Linked DNA regions of Homo sapiens: region 1 is linked to region 2. The links come from fine-mapping of genetic effects on plasma protein levels. A gene starts in region 2. The other region holds a variant in brackets. All regions are shown on one strand. Distances are from middle to middle. Region 1 has its middle 24 kb from the start of LTBR. Region 2 holds the start of LTBR (lymphotoxin beta receptor).

What was found. A credible set is the group of variants that fine-mapping cannot tell apart. PIP is the chance, under the fine-mapping model, that this variant and not a neighbour inherited with it causes the effect. The UK Biobank Pharma Proteomics Project read protein levels with antibody pairs (Olink). The fine-mapping took linkage between variants from a reference panel, not from the people measured, so its PIPs are less certain.
Region 1: its variant is the best candidate, but not a certain one, in a credible set for the plasma level of the LTBR protein (UK Biobank, PIP 0.84).

The regions. Positions count from the first base shown.
Region 1 is chr12:6,404,391-6,412,911 of GRCh38, reverse strand. It overlaps the pseudogene RPL31P10. Among named protein-coding and RNA genes, the nearest start is that of LTBR, 24 kb to the right of the region's middle. The variant G/A (reference allele first, on the strand shown) is at 3,888.
Region 2 is chr12:6,376,377-6,384,376 of GRCh38, reverse strand. LTBR (lymphotoxin beta receptor) reads right to left here and starts at 215. Exons shown (of 10, transcript NM_002342.3): 1 at 1-215. The coding sequence starts at 18. It also overlaps a transcript of SCNN1A not described here. RefSeq lists enhancers at 297-1,162, 7,382-7,986.

The DNA.
Region 1 (8,521 bases), 28 kb before region 2:
ATACCAAGTATATTAGAAGCCTCCCCCAAAAGAAACACTTAGGTATAACAAAATATGTACAAGATCCACATGGGGGATGGGTACAGTGGTTGACTCCTGTAATCCCAGCACTTTGGGTGGCCAAGGTGGATGGATCACCTGAGGTTAGGAGTTCTAGACCAGCCTGACCAATATGGTGAAACTCCACCTATACTAAAAATACAAAAAATAGCCGGGCGTGGTGGCAGGCGCCTGTAATCCCAGCTACTCGGGAGGCTGAGACAGGAGAATTGCTTGAACCCAGGAGGCTGAGCTTGTAGTGAGCAGAGATCGTGCCACCACACTCCAGCCTGGGAGACAGAGTGAGACTCCATCTCAAAAAAAAAAAAAAAATCATCTATATGAGGAAAACTACAAAATTCTGATGAAAGAAATCAAAGAAAATAAATGGAAGGATATTCCATGTTCCTGGAGAAGAAGACTCAATATTGTCAAGATGTCAGTTCTTTCCAACTTGATCTATAGATTCAATGCAATCCCAGTAAAACTCTTAGCAAGCTATTTTATGGATATTGCCAAACTGATTATAGAGTTTATATGGAGAAGCAAAAGATCCAGAATAGCCAACACAATATTGAAGAAGTTCAAGACTAGCCTGGCCAACATATAGTGAAACCCAGTCTCTACTAAAAATACAAAATTAGCCAGGCGTGGTGGTGCACGCCTGTAATCCCAGCTACTTGGGAGGCTGAGGCAGGTGAATCACTTGAACCTGGGAGGCGGAGATTGCCGTGAGCCGAGATCGAGGCATTGCACTCCAGCATGGGCAACAGAGCGAGACTCCATCTTAAAAAAAAAAAAAACATATCTGAACATTTCCTTTCCCTGCTTAAAGTCCTTTAGTGGACTTCTGGTCCAAACTGAAACGATGGCAAGAGTGTTGCTCCCAGCTATGCAACAAGAAAAGAGCTGGAAAAGCTGCACATGAATGACTTTTCTGGATCTCCTAAGAGAATTGAGGTCACAGGGCAGACAACCTGAAACCGAGAGAGAGACAGGTACCTACAGGGGGAAACAGTACCTGAGCATTCCTTACTTAAGTAAGAAAATTAAGCTGGACATTTTTAACAATTAATAGTGGCCTACTGTTGGTGATTAAGAGAGTATGAAGTCCCTGGAAGCTGCAGACAAAGGGAGTCTTGCGCTTTCTTTCAGGCTTTTCTTTCAGGACCCCCATCAATCACCCACAGGAAGATAGGTGAAATGGGAGAATTCTGACACCCTCTGCTCCATGGTGCTTGCTGGGGGTGGGGAACGGAACAGCAGCTATGGCCAAGACTCCATTCCTTTAGGACAAGACTTCATCTGCAAGGGGAAGGTCATAAAAACTTACAGGCAGGCCGGATGCTGTGGCTCATGCCTATAATCCCAGCACTTTGGGAGGCTGAGGTGGGTGGGTCACTTGAAGTCAGGAGTTTGAGACCAGCCTGGCCAACGTGGCGAAACCCCATCTCTACTAAAAATACAAAAATTAGCCAGGTGGTGGGCACCTGTAATCCCAGCTACTTAGGAGGCTGAGGCAGGAGAATCGCTTCAACCCATCACGCAGAGGTTGTAGTGAGCCAACATCGCACCACTGCACTTCAGCCTGGGGGACAGAGTGAGACTCTGTCTCAAAAAAACAGAAAACACAAAACTTATGGGCAGAGGGCATTGGTGGAAACCCACTGAAATTAGGGGAAGGGAACAGGGGAAAAAAGAAGAAGTTCTTCCTTTTAGTGAGGACCGGAATAATTGCCAGGCCAACCATTATACCTGGAGGAAGGGCAATTATGAAGGCCACACTCCCAAGATCCAGGTTCATAGTGCCTACCTAAGGCTGAGCCTCAATCATAACACAAGGGAACACATAACCTCCTTCATAGCCTACCACCACATGACAGGCCTCCAGTGAAAAATAATACAAGAATGTATCTGGGAGAACTTGCAAGAGACAGACTTTATTTAGGGAACAGTGCAAAAGGAAGATACAAATCCAAGAGACAAAAACAAGGCACCACTAGAGGAATTTTAAGCCCCTGATGCACTGAGGATAATAATATATGTTGGTGCAAAAGCAAACTTCAAACCCAGCCCTCCTGACTACATTAATGGAAATCTCTATACTAGAGAAGTAGCAGAAAGAAATGAATGCTTATCTTCAAGAATACAAAATATTTATGTCAGTATCTGTTGTGTTATACAGCATATCCAGCTTTCAATGAAAACCACAAGGTATACAAAAAGGAAAGAAAAAACACAATCTGGACTGGGCATGGTGGCTCACACCTGTAGTCTCAGTACTTAGGGAGGCCAAGGCAGGCGGATGACGAGGTCAGGAGTTCAAGATCAGCCTGGCCAGTATGGTGAAACCCCTCTCTACAAATACAAAAATTAGCTAGGCATGGTAGCGCATGCCTGTCAACCCAGCTACTGGGGAGGCTGAGGCAGGAGAATTGCTTGAACCCAGGAAGCAGAGGTTGCAATGAACAGAGATCATGCCACTGCACTCCAACCTGGGTGACAGAGCAATACTCCGTTTCAAAAAAAAGAAAAAGACACAATCTAAAAAGACAAAAAAAAAAAATCAGAACCAGACTCAGATATGACATCAGACATGGAATTTAAAGTAACATGATTATGTTAAAGGATTTAATGGAAAAGGTAGACAACATGCCAAAAGAAGATGGATAAATTCAGCAGAGGAAACCATAAGAATAAAATGGAAATGCTTGAAATAAAATCGTGGTGACAGAAATGAAGAACACCTTTGACTGGTTCATCAGTAGACTCAGTATAGCTGAGAAAAGAATCAGTGACCTTGGGTGTAGAGGTCAATAGAAATTTCCCAAACTCCCTTTCCAACTTGGACATGGCAGAATGGCTCCCACAAAGAAGGGTGGCGAGAAGAAAAAGGGCCGTTCTGCCATCAACGAAGTGGTGACCCGAGAATACACCATCAACATTCACAAGCGCATTTGTGGAGTAGGCTTCAAGAAGCGTGCCCCTCGGGCACTCAAAGAGATTCGGAAATTTGCCATGAAGGAGATGGAAACTCCAGATGTGCGCATTGATACCAGGCTCAACAAAGCTGTCTGGGCCAAAGGAATAAGGAATGTCCGACACCGAATCCATGTGCGGCTGTCCAGAAAACGTAATGAGGATGAAGATTCACAAATAAGCTCTATACTTTGGTTACCTATGTATTTGCTACCACTTTCAAAAATCTACAGACAGTCAATGTGGATGAGAACTAATCGCTGATAGTCAAATACATCAAATAAAGTTATAAAATTGCAAAAAAATAAAGAGGAATTACCCAAACTGAAGTGCAAAAAAAGAGTGGGTAAAAAACAAAACAGAACAACAACAAAAAAGAAAGAAAGAAGACACCATCCAAGAATACCAAATGAGTTAACATGCCCATAATTGGAATTCCAGAAGGAGAAGAAAGACTTGGACAGGATTTGTCTAATCAGACTTAGTTAAACAAACAAACAAACGAACAAAAAGAATAAGACAGGAGAAACATTTGAAGAGATAATGGCTTAGAATTATCCAAAATTAGTAACAGACAGAAAAGCACAGATCAAGGAAGCTCAGAGAACACCAAGCAGGATAAATACCAAAACAACACAGCCCCTCACCAAACCCATGCATCTAGGCATATCATATTAAAACTGCTGAAAACCAAAGAGAAAGAAAATCTGGAAGTCAGCCAAGGGGGAAAAAACATAATATCTTACCGAGGAGCGAGGATAAGAATTACAGCAGACTGCTAGTCAGAAACAATAAAAGCAAAATGAAATGGAGTAATATCTTTTTTTTTTTTTTTTTTGAGATGGAGTCTCGCTCCATCACTCAGGCTG[G/A]AGTGCAGTGGCATGATCTTGGCTCACTGCAACCTCCGCCTCCCGGGTTCAAGTGATTCTCCTGCCTCAGCTAGGTGCCTGCCATCATACCCAGCTAATTTTTGTATTTTTAGTAGAGACGGGTTTTCGCCATGTTGGCCAGGCTAGTCTCAAACTCCTGACTTCAGGTGATCCACCAACCTTGGCCTCCCAAAGTGCTAGGATTACAGGCGTGAGCCACTGTGCCTGGCCCAAATTAAGAGTTTTCTATTTTTATTTTTATTTTTTTAGAGACGGGGTCTCACTACGTTTCCCAGGATGGTCTGAAACTCCTGGACTCCAGTGATCCTCCCACCTCAGCCTCCCAAAATGCTGGGATTACAAGCATTAGCAACTACACCAGGCCAAAATTAAAAGTTTATCAGACAAACAGAAACTGAGGAAGTTGATTGCCAGCAGACCTACTTTATAATAAATGTCAAAGCAAGTTCTCTAAGAAGAAGAGGCTGGGTGTGGTGGCTCACGCCTGTAATCCCAGCACTTTGGGGGGCCAAGGCGGGTGATCACTTGAGGTCAGGAGTTTGAGACCAGCCTGGCCAACATGGTGAAACCCTGTCTCTACTAAAAACACAAAAATTATCTGGGCGTGGTGGTGGGCGCCTGTAGTCCCAGCTACTCAAGTGGCTGAGGCAGGAGAATTGCTTGAACCCGGGAGGCGGAGGTCGCAGGGAGCCGAGATTGTGTCAGCCTGGGTTGAACAGAGTGAAACTTCGTCTCAAAAAAGAAAGAAGAAGAAGAAATATAATCAAAATCTTGGATCTATACAAAGAAACAACGTACTGTAGTTTATAGAATACCATTTACAATAGCAGCCCCCATGAAGTTTTTAGGTATAAATATAACAAAATACGTGGGAGATATGTGTGCTAAAAACTACAAAATACTGACGAAAGAAATCAACATGGGGCCGGGCATGGTGGCTCCTGCCTGTAATCCCAGCACTTTGGGAGGCCGAGGCGGGCGGATCACTTGCGGTCAGGAGTTCAAGACCAGTCTGGCCAACATGGTGAAACCCCGTCTCTACTAAAAATACAAAAATTAGCCCAGTGTGTTGGCACACGCCTGTAATCCCAGCTACTTGGGAGGCTGAAGCAAGAGAATTGCTTGACCCCAGGAGGCGGAGGAGGCGGTGAGCCAAGACTGCACCACTGCACTCCAGCCTGGGCGATGGAGATTCCGTCTCAAGAAATAAATAAATAAATAAATAAATAAATAAATAAATAAAAGAGAAAGAAAGAAAAGAAAAACTGAATGCTACAAGTTCAGCCCATTACTAACCAGTTCCAGACAAATTGGCTTTTTTCTTTTTTCTTCTTATTTTCCTCTGGCTTTTCCCCTCATTTTAAAAATGGAGAGGTAATCGTGCCTCTCATGAGCGAATAGTTTTAGTATGCTTAGAACACTGTCCTGTACATAGTAAGCATTCAACATATGTTGGCTAATACTACTGAAGCCAATTGTAACAGTAGTATTAGAAGCCGTAATAATATTACCCCAGTCAAATATGTCCATAATTGGCAATAGGGAAAGAATTGCTGCCACTCAGCAGTATTTGGAGTATTGAATGTCATTGTTTACTTTTTCTGGAAGGAGCGTGACCTAAGACACTGATCTAAACTGAATGTGCATGGCTAATGGTGTGGATAGACAGAGATTTTAAGTGGGCAAAAGTGAAGGTTGTGTTGACAAGAAGTTTCAGGAAACAGTGATGTGGATGAATTTCCCAGAACGGTCCCAGAATATGAGAATAATGTCCCACGTGAATGCTAATCGAAATTCCCACTCTTCAGAGGAGGCTATCAGCAATCAGGTACACATCAACCATATGGCTGTCATGTAGTCTCTTCGTATCACCCCACTTACTGCCCAAGTGATTTATTTGTAAACAATGTGGCCAGCGTGGTGGCTCACGCCTATAATGCCAGCACTTTGGGAGGCCGAGGTGGGTGGATCATCTGAGGTCAGGAGTTTGAGACCAGCCTGGCCAACATGGTGAAACCCCATCTCTACTAAGAATACAAATATTAGCCGGGCCTGGTGGCGGGTGACTGCAATCCCAGCTACTCGGGAGGCTGAGGCAGGAGAATCACTTGAACCTGGGAGGTGGAGGTTGTAGTGAGCTGAGATCACGCCATTGCACTCCAGCCTGGGTGACGGAGTGAGACTCTATCTCAAAAAAAAAAAAAAAAAATGTGACTAGGGTGGCAGGCAGTGGTAGAGGTTATACTTGAGCTCTATAGTATAGACTTAGCTCACCAAGGCTGACCTCTGGATGCTGATGCTGCTAAGTGTCCCATATGTCAGGGGAAGTATTCTTGTATTCTTGCAAGTATTTTGTCATGGATGGGGCAGGGATTTGTCTTCACTGAGATAAACACTTACTCTAGATTTGGATATGCTTCACTTACATGCTATTGCTAGCAGGACCATCAATGAACTTACTGAACACTTCATACCTCATATCTCACAACGTCTTTTTGGACCCATTTCTATAAGTTATACAAAAAGGGTAAGGTAATGCATGGATGACCATGGGACTCAGTAGTTCTAATGTGTACCACATTCCTTATAAGTAGAAATCTCAATTTTTGGAAGCCTCAGTTAAAGTGGCATGTAGTCATTTTGCACCCTCTTGGAGTACTGTTCAATTTTCGACATTGTATATGTGCTTAATAGTGACTAAGAATAGGCATAATTTCTTCTGTAGCCAAAATGCATTGGTTAAAGAAAGGAGAGGTAGGAGTGGAGTGGTGCCTCTCCTATTACACTTAACAGCCAACTCGAGAAAGTTATGCTTTTCATGTTTGCAACTCAGGGCTCTCTGCTGCCTTGAGTTGTTTTAGAACTCCTTGTTTTAGAAAAGGAGGAGTACATGCTGCCACCAGTCGTCACGGAGATGCCTCTGTTTATCGATTTACTAAAAAGGATTTATTTTTGTATGACGTTTAAAGCAGTTTAAATTACATTCATTTGCTGACTTAGAGAACTGTGGGAAGTCTTGACTTATGGGAGTTGGGCTTTTGGACTTCTCCTCTGTTTGCCAGTTTTCTTTTTGTTTCTGTCTCCCCTTTTCTTTCCCCCGTCTGTCTTGGGCTATCTCTTTTTAGGCGCATAGGCAAGGAGCTGTGACCGACAATTTGAATGTTTTTAAAAATACTCTCATAAAAAACACACCTTTGGCCGGGCGCGGTGGCTCACGCCTGTAATCCCAGCACTTTGGCAGGCTGAGGCAGGCGGATCACAGGAGGTCAGGAGTTTGAGACCAGCCTGGCCAACATGGTGAAACCCGGTCTTTACTAAAAATACAAAAATTAGCAGGGCGTGGTGGAGCGCGCCTGTAGTCCCAGCTACTCGGGAGGCTGGGGCAGGAGAATTGCTTGAATCTGGGAGGTGGAGGATGCAGTGAGCCGAGATTGCGCCATTGCACTCCAGCCTGGGAGACAGAGTGAGACTCTGTCTCAAAAAAAAAGAAAACAAAACATTTTTTTCTGCAATACTTTTCAAAGAATGGTTTAAAAGCAATGACAATCCATGATCAGTGAGAATTTTCACTCAGATTATGGTCTCTCAATTCCTTTTTCAAAGAGCAGACAGGCTACTTGGAGACTTGGGTAAATTTATGGATTATAATAGATTTAAGAGGAACAGCCATCAGATGCCATATTTGGAGCTGGTGGGACCTCATTCAGACAAAATCAGTATAAAAAATATTTCAGACAATTCAGGATTTCCTTTCTTTAAGGGCTAGGTATTGGATAATGTTATAAGTCATTTTTAAAATTTTCTTAGGTGTGAAATCTTAGTGTATTTTCTCTATATTCATATCTGTTAGGATGTTTGTGAAAATATTCATGATTAAAATCACATTTTTGAGATTTCATGTTTGGGATATTTTTTAGACTCCCTCATCCACCATTGTGGGTGCAGATAATGAAACAAAATGGCAAGTTGTTGGTAATTTTTGAAGCACGTGTGACGAGCCCTGGGAAGTGCAGTATTCTCTATATTTTTGTGTCTACTTCAGTATGTCCATGACCACTCCCTTTCCCCTCCAAAAAAAAGTTAAAATTTAAAAAAAGCTGGCTAAATTAAAAAAAAGAAAAGAAAAAGGAAATCAACAAAGATATAAATAAATGATTAGGTGTAGGCTGGGTGGGGGCTGGGTGTGGGCTGGGTGTGGGCTGGGTGCACCTGTAATCCCAGTGCTTTGGGAGGTTGAGGCAGGGGGATCACTTGAGGCCAGAAGTTCGAGACCAGCTTGGACGACACAGAAAGACGCAGTCTCTACACAAAATAAAAAATTACTCAGGCATGGTGGCATGTGCCTGTACTCTCGGCTACTTAGGAGACTGAGGTGGGAAGATCACTTGAGCACAGGAGTTCAAGGTTGCAGTGAGCTATGATTGCACCACTGCACTCTAGCCTGCACTCTAGTCTGGGTGACAGAGTGATACCTCGCCTCAAAAAAAAAAAAAAAAAGGTATAAATAAATAGAAAGATATACTGTATTCATAGATTAGAAAATTCAATATTGTAAATATGTTAATTCTCCCCAGTTTGATCTATAGATTCAATGCATTATCAATCAAAATCAT
Region 2 (8,000 bases):
GGCCCAAGGCAGGAGCATGGCGGCCACTCGGCCAGGCGGCCAGCAACGTGGGGGCCTGGGAGGAAGGCAGGAGGCCCGACGTCCTGGGCAGCGGTGGCGGCGGCTGCCCGAGCCCAGAGCCTGGGACGGGACTCAGGGCCGATGTGCACCCCAGGGCCGGGAGCGGCCAGGCCGGGCCTCCAGGGCTCCCATGGCGGAGCTCAGGAAGTGGGAGTGGAGCGAGCTGGCCGCGGGGCGGGGACAGGGAGCGCTGGGAGCCAGGCCGGCCTGTCGCAATCGCAGCCCAGGGAAGAGGAACAGGCTTGTCTGCCTCGATGCGGGGCGGGAGGGGCGGCCGGGAAAGCACGTGAGGGCCGCGGGGCCGGAACCGGCCTCCTCCCTTCTTCGGAAGCCCGATCGGGAGAGCGGACTGCGGACAGCCCTGGCCCAGCCGAGGGAAGGGCGGCGGGCCCGGGGTCAGCCCTTGGACAAGCCTCGCAGGGAGAGCAGAGGGAGTTCCAGAGAGCGCAAGGGACAGCTGGGTGCGGGATCTGGAAAGCGAGGGGCCCAGGACGGGCAGTCATGGAGAGGGCAGGGCGCGGGGACTGCAAGGCCGCAGAAGCAGCTCTGAGACCGAGGAGAACCGGCTGGCAGATGCCCGGGTTCCTCCCCCGTTGTCCTGCCCTACTGTGGGAGTTTTTCAGACAAATTACAAGGGACTAGCAAATCAGCCAGCCCCCCACGCTACCAACCCAGCCCAATCCGCACAGGAGTGGGCACAGGTCACCTAGGAGACCCTTGAGAGCTGTGCAGCTTGCCCTGCTCCCTGTCCTCAGGGAACCTCCCTCCCAAAGAGAGGGGGAGGATATGCGGAGGGGAGTCCTGGGGCCAGCAGGCTGGACCTGGGCACTCAGTCCCTCTGCTCTGGCTTCTTTGCCCATGAACCTTCAAACCCCTTAGAACTGGAGAAAGCTGAGAGCCCACGCAGTCCAGCCCCCTCACCTTAAGCATGGAGAGGGAGGCTAAGGGTGATACATAAGGGAACCGGGATTCCAGGGTGGCCTGGTCTCGTTCCTGCCCTGTTTCATCCTCCCATCTCCCTCAACCCAACACCCCACCCACCCGTGGAGTTACTTGCAGCTGCCCCCTTTTACACGTGGTTCTCTGGTCCCCAAGTTTCCGTCTTCCTAACTCCCACCTGTCCTTGAGGCTTCACTGAGGCTCTGGAAGGCAACCTCTGCCCTAGGTTGCACAGTCCCCGTGAAGACTGCCCTCTGTACCTGGCTGTCTTGTTTGCTTCCCACCAGGCTGTGAGTGCCACCATGGCCCAGGCTGAATCTTCAAGTCTGTGTTCCCCATGCTTAGCAGAGTCTGGCACATACCATGTGCCCAATAGGTATTTATGGAATAAATGAGTGATGGCCACATCACAGAGCCAGTCCACCGCAGAGCCAGCTACAATCTGGGTCTCCTGATGTCTAGGTCCCAACTCATTCCAGCAGTCCTGCCAACTCCTTGTGGCTCAGGGATGTCTCCCTTGGGATGAGGGGCTAACCTCTCTTGAGATAGGTCACTTGGGCACTATCCCCCTCCCTGAAGGACTCTGTTCAGCACTCGTCCTTACACTGGTCTGTCTAACTTCAGGTCTGATGTCTGGACAGGTGCAGGTGATGGGAAGTGTGCATGGGGAGGAGAGGTCACAAAAGGGGGAAAGGACCTGCCTAGGCTGTAGGCATTTCACTCTGTGAGGCTCTCTCCCCTCACCTGGTGCAGGCAGCTCACCGTACAGATGGGCCAAAGATGGCTGGAAAGGGCAGAAGTATCAGAACAGCATGCACTGCGCGGGGCTGCTGAGCCTTCCAGGGCCCTAGCGCTGGGGGCTGGGATGAGAGTCCCTGCTGAGCTCTTAAACGCGTAAAGGAATGTGTGTGTAGCGACCCTAGGTCCTTTTTTCTCTCTCTTCTTTTTACTTTTTACTGTGGAAATTCCACATGCAAGATAATATACCAAAAGAGAAAAAGTAATATTGGGAGTCTCCCATATACTCCTTACCCAGCTTCAACTCACTGTCAGTTTCATTTATTCTGTATACCCCCTCCCCCACCAACGCACACACTCTTCAAATCCCTCATTATTATTTTGAAGTAAATCCCAGACATCATATCATTTCATTTGAAAATATTTCAGGATTTTACCCTAAAAGACAGGGACTCTTTCTCTATTCTATTTTTCTTTTTTTCCCCACCCTGTCTTATGCTGCTGAGACCCTTTCTTTTAATAGAGGTGTAACATATAATACAATGAAACCGTAAGGTACACTGATCTTACAGATACAGCTCAGAGAGTCTTCACTTTTGTGTATTCTTGCATATCCCCCAACTGGTCCAGAACACCTCTTCTCTTCTCTTCTTTTCTCTTTTCCTTTCCATACAGAGTCTCGCTTTGTCGCCCAGGCTGGAGTGCAGTGGTGCAATCTCGGCTCACTACAACCTCTGCCTCCCAGGTTCAAACAATTCTCTGCCTCAACCTCCCGAGTAGCTGGGATTACGGGCGCCTGCCACCATGCCTGGCTGATTTTTGTATTTTTAGTAGAGATGGGGTTTCGCCATGTTGACCAGGCTGGTCTTGAACTCCTGATGTTGTGATCCACCCGCCTTGGCCTCCCAAAGTGCTGGGATTACAGGCGTGAGCCACGGCACCCGGCCCCAGAATGTTCCTTGCACTACAAATGTTTGCTACATGCCCTTCCCAGTCAAAGCTTCCTGCTTCACAGGTAACCACTATGTCCAGACCCCTTTTAACCCCAGCTGGCTGGACTGTATGTTTCTTTCTGCTGCCAGCCGTAAGCTGGCGCTTCAGCCCTCATGGACTCTCTACACCCTAAGGAACGAGCCCTGAGATCTGGGTTTTGATCCTGGCCCCATCACTTTATCTCTGTGTGCCTCTTTATTGTGTCAGTCAGCTACTGGTTTGCTTGCAGGTCTGTGGGATGGAGGTGGGATGGGAGGAGTGAAGCAGCCAGGCTATTTCTCTCCTCTCTGCTTTCTGGCTTCACCTGCAGTTGGTTGTCTTCCTTCCTTCCCCACTTCCATAATCCCATCTCCTACCAGTAGTCCACACTATTTAGTTCCTGCCAAATGGCTCTGGAGGCTTCTTGGTCTTTGATGCTACATCACCCTGCCATCTTTCCAGGCCTAGAGATGGTAGCTGCTTCCCGCTCTGCTGTTTTCTGAGCTGCCTCCCATTGTCTTCTCAGCTCCTCCATCACCCATGTACCAGTTAGTTCTCTGTGTTAAACTTCTTCTGTTTGAAAGACTTAGAGTGTTTCTTGTTTCCCAGCTGGATCACGAAAGACAAATCTTACCAATAAATGGCTACTATAATGCCCAGCCATCCCCAGGAGGATAAAGGGAGACTCCAGGGGTGAGAAATCCACAGGTTCACCGCGGGCAGGGCATTGTCTTTACTCCTGTCCTTTTGTGTTTTTCACCAGAGCCTCCTGAGACTGATTTCCACTGGGCAACACCAGACCCAGACCGAGCACCCCAGGACGCCTAGAAGGTGTGTGAGGGTGGGACTCTTCTCCCAGGCCTTCTTCCGAAGGAGCTGCTGAGAGAGCCTTCTTTCCACAGGCCCATTAGGCATCCAGAAAGGGGGCTGATGGAAATGGATTCTTCTTCTTCTTCTTCTTCTTTTTTTTTTTTTTTTGAGACAGAGTCTCAGTCTGTCGCCCAGGCTGGAGTGCAATGGTGCAATCTCAGCTCACTGCAACCTCCGCCTCCCAGGTTCAAGTGATTTTCCTGGCCTCAGCCTCCCAAGTTGAGTAGCTGGGACTACAGGCATGCGCCAACAGGCCCGGCTAATTTTTGTATTTTTAGTAGAGATGGTGTTTTGCCATGTTGGCCACAGGCTGGTTTTGAATTCCTGGTCTCAAGTCATTTCGCCCACCTTAGCCTCCCAAAGTACTGGGATTACAGGCACGAGCCACTGTACCCGGCCAGGAATGGATTCTTCTAAATACTTTTTCTTTCTCTCTTCTTCTCCACTCTGCTCTTAGCTGACTAGTGCTCTTGGAAATGGTCTGGCAAACACCCAGAAGTGCATAACAGATGAGGGTTGTCCTTTTCCAGAGTATTTGCATTTTCAGTGGTGACAATGCCTTAACCCAGTCTTTTCAACGGGGGTGACTTTGCCCCCCAGAAGTCATTTGGCAATATTTGGAGATGTTTTGGTCACAATGACTCAGGAGGTGCTACTAGCATCTAATAGATGGAAGCCAGGGATGCTGCTGAACATCCTGCACAGGATTGTAGATAGGACAGAATCATCCTGTCCCACCACAAAGAATGATACAGCCGAAAATGTCAATAGTGCCAAGGTTGATAAACCCTGTCTTCAATCAAAGTGATAAACTTCTAGTAGTGAACTTCTTTTTTTGTTTTTTTTTTTGTTTTTTTTTTTTTTGAGACAGAGTCTTGCTTTGTCTCCCAGGCTGGAGTGCAGTGGCACGATCTTGGCTCACTCCAAGCTCCACCTCCCCGGTTTTATGCCATTCTCCTGCCTCAGCCTCCCGAGTAGCTGGGACTACAGGCGTGCACCACTTATGCCCAGCTAATTTTTTTTGTAATTTTAGTAGAGACGGGGTTTCACCATGTTAGCCAGGATGGCCTCGATCCCCTGACCTCATGATCCACCCGCCTCGGCCTCCCAAAGTGCTGGGATTACAGGCGTGAGCCACCATGCCCGGCCAACTTCTAGTAGTGAACTTCTAAGTAAACTGCCAGGGGACTAGATGAAGAGTGGCATTTTTCTGGTCCATCATTTTAAATGAAAGAGAAATCTGTACCACATAAGGGCAGCTGAAAGGACTGTTGTCTTCCACAGTGGGCAGCCCCCAGTGTGAAGTGGCTAATTAGCTCCAAGTAGTAAGAATAAAGAGTTGCATTTAACTAAGTAACTGATTCTTATCCTGGAAAGGATAGAAGTGAACAGGGAAAAGTGAAGAAAATTTAGATAAATTAATAGACCACAAATAAATGGGTTGTCAGAGGAAGTTAGGATGTTTGAAGTTTTGCAGATGCTTTTTCGTAGCATATCCCGCTCTGTCAAAGATAAACTAGGAAAGACGCCAGTTCTGCTGTCTTCTGCAGACTGGGTCAGCAAACAGTGACCGCTAGACACTGAGGTCACCAAGATGAATACGCCTGGTCTCTGTCCTTGTGTTGCGGGAAGTCAGGGACCCCAAACGGATGTATACGTACAAACACACATACATCAGGATAATAGTAAATAATAATAATAAATAATAGTAAACAGTGGTAAGTGCAGAGATAGGCTCTCCCTAGGAGGGTGGAGTGATTACTTCCGTCATCTCCTGTCCGCGGAGAACAAGAGGCAGGAAGACCCTTTGCACTCATAACCCTCATCCCATGGCAGCCCCTCTGGTTTCACTTCTCTCCCTGCAGCCGTGCATATTTTATGGCCACACCACAGGGTTAGAGGATAGCTGGTGTTGGGAGGGGAAGGCAGCCCTGGGTTGGCGGGAAGGGCTGGGGCTCTGGGGGAGTCTGGGGGTAGTCCTGGGAAGGCAGGGGGTCCTTCCAAGACAGAGTCTACAAAGCTCTTGACTTCTTATAGAACAAAACTGTACTTCTCTCAAAGTCAGAGAAGGAGAACTGGGCTTGGAAAGGAGTGGCCTGGTTTTCAGTCTGACCCCACCCCTAACTCCTGGGTGACTGTGGCCAAGTCACTTTGCTTCTGTGGGCCTCAGTCCCCTCATGCATGAAGCAGGGGGCTAGATGCAAGGTCAGCTGGAAAAAGTCTTTGTCCATCTGGGTTGCCTTACCCACCCCTTCTTGCCCTTTCATTTTCTCAGGTAAGATCACCGGGGCCCATAGAGGTCAAGTGCCTTTCTCAAAGTCACATAGTTTAAAAGCAAAAATAGGGGCTGAGTATGGTGGCTCACACTTGTAATCCCAGCACTTTGGGAGGCTGAGGCAGGAGGACTGCTTGAGCCTAGGAGTTGGAGGCTGCAGTGAGCCATGATCATGCTGCTGTACTCCAGCCTAGAGGATAGTGCATGATCCTGTCTCTAAGATAAATAAGAAAATAAAAGCAAAAATGGAAGTTGTAGAAACATACCTATAGCATGGTCTCTGTCATAAAAAAGAACTATATATTTTGTTTTTTAAAAATACATGTAAGTTTATAAAGGCACACAAAAAGATATAGACAGATATACAAATTATGGTGGCTCCCCTTTGGGGAGGGAAAGGAAGGGGACTAAGGGAAGCTCTATATACTTCTGTATTGCTGAAAAATTGTACTGTGACAAAAACATATTTGTGTATTATTTGTACACTTTAAAAGATCATCTTTAAAATGGACTTCTGACCAAAGTCCAGGTCTCAGATTTCTATTTTCCTCACAACACCAAGCCTGTTCTAGCCCGCTCCAGGTCTAGAATGCTGCAGCACTAGGCTCGCATTGCCACTCCCATACCCGGCAGGACGTGGCAGGGTCACCACCCTTTGGCTCAGCCCAGACCAGGCATTGCAATTCTTCTCACAGAGCCCTTGATATGAAAACTATTTGCCATGCTGCCTTAAGCTAGTGGTTGGATTTCAGGCATGAGCTGGCAAATAGAAAAGGCAGGGAGGTGCTTTTCAGAACCTTTGAGATCAAACAGCCAGGGTGCTGAGCACCTTATTGCAGGGAGGACCATGCCCAATGTAAGGACCTGGCTCAAGGGAGACTGGAGTTTCTAGGGGTCTCTGGGATATGTGGGGCAGTGGGGACAGTGCAGAGACCTTTTCACAGAGCCAAGGAGATAACCCAGCACCCAGAGAGCAGACGAATCCACGGGCTCTGTGTGGGAGTGAGGGAGGCCTTCCCGGCTTTCACATCCAGGTGCACCTGAGCCCCGATCCCCCATGAGTCTGTCTCAGGAAGTAAATGGCAAAAGCGCTAAGTAGATAGCCCCAGAGGAGGAGGAGAATTCTGAATTCTGTTTATAGCTCTGCTCCTATTTTGTTTTCTAACCTCAGAAAACTGATTTATCCTTGGGAAGGGTCAGTTTCTTCATTAGGACAATGAAGAAAAATCCAGCTGTCCCTTCCAAGGGGAGGTATCATGAGCAGTATCAAGGTAAGCAAGGGAACCTGGTTTGGAATCCTGGTTGACACCGGCTTTCACTTTAAGAAGTCGCAAGAGACTGCCGCAAGAGAGGAAGCCACAGACCAGGTTGGACCCTGAGCCTGGAGTACTGCCTTTTCTCTTCTTTGCCTGCTAAACTCCTTGCTTGTCAAGATTCAGCAGAGATGACACCTTCTCTGGGAAGGCTTCCTGAGTCTCCTGCAGTGAGCCCCTAGGCTCCCCTAGCCCTTGGCTCTTATGTCTTATCTCTGAGAAATCTGAGATCTGCACTTTTGTTAGAAGTCCGTTTTAAAGACAATCTTTTAAAGTGTACAAATAGAAACCTTATCTTATTGTATTGCAGGCCTATCTCCTCCCCCGGTGTGTATCAATGCTCAGGCTGGGCCTTTGTCTGCTGGCTTGTGGAGGGAGGCAGGACAAGCCAGTGACCACATTCCTGCACTCTGGGCTGCCTCCTGTGGGGCCCGTGAGGAAGCGGCAGCCTTCCCTGCCGCGTGCAGGGCCTGGGTTGTGTGGGTGGCTCTCCCGAGTCTCCTCCAGCCCTTTTTGGGTCTGATTCTCTGACCCTCCTCTCTCTCCTTGCTCACCACTTGGCACTCCACTCCTTATCCTTTTGCTGCATTAAGTTTGGAAAGAGATTTTGGAGAAAATATAGCCCATCAACGAATTTCTCCTCCTCCCAGGGCCTGTCTAGGCGTGTGCCATGCCCACCCTCTTCCTTTCCAGCGCTGGCCACATCCTCCCTGCACCTTCAGTGCCTGCTTTCCCTGCCTCTTCCTGGGCTCCGGGTCTGTGTCCACAGTGTCCTGCGTGGCCCTCGCGCTGCCTCTGGTTGCCCACATTCCTGCAACTCTGTGACCACAGCA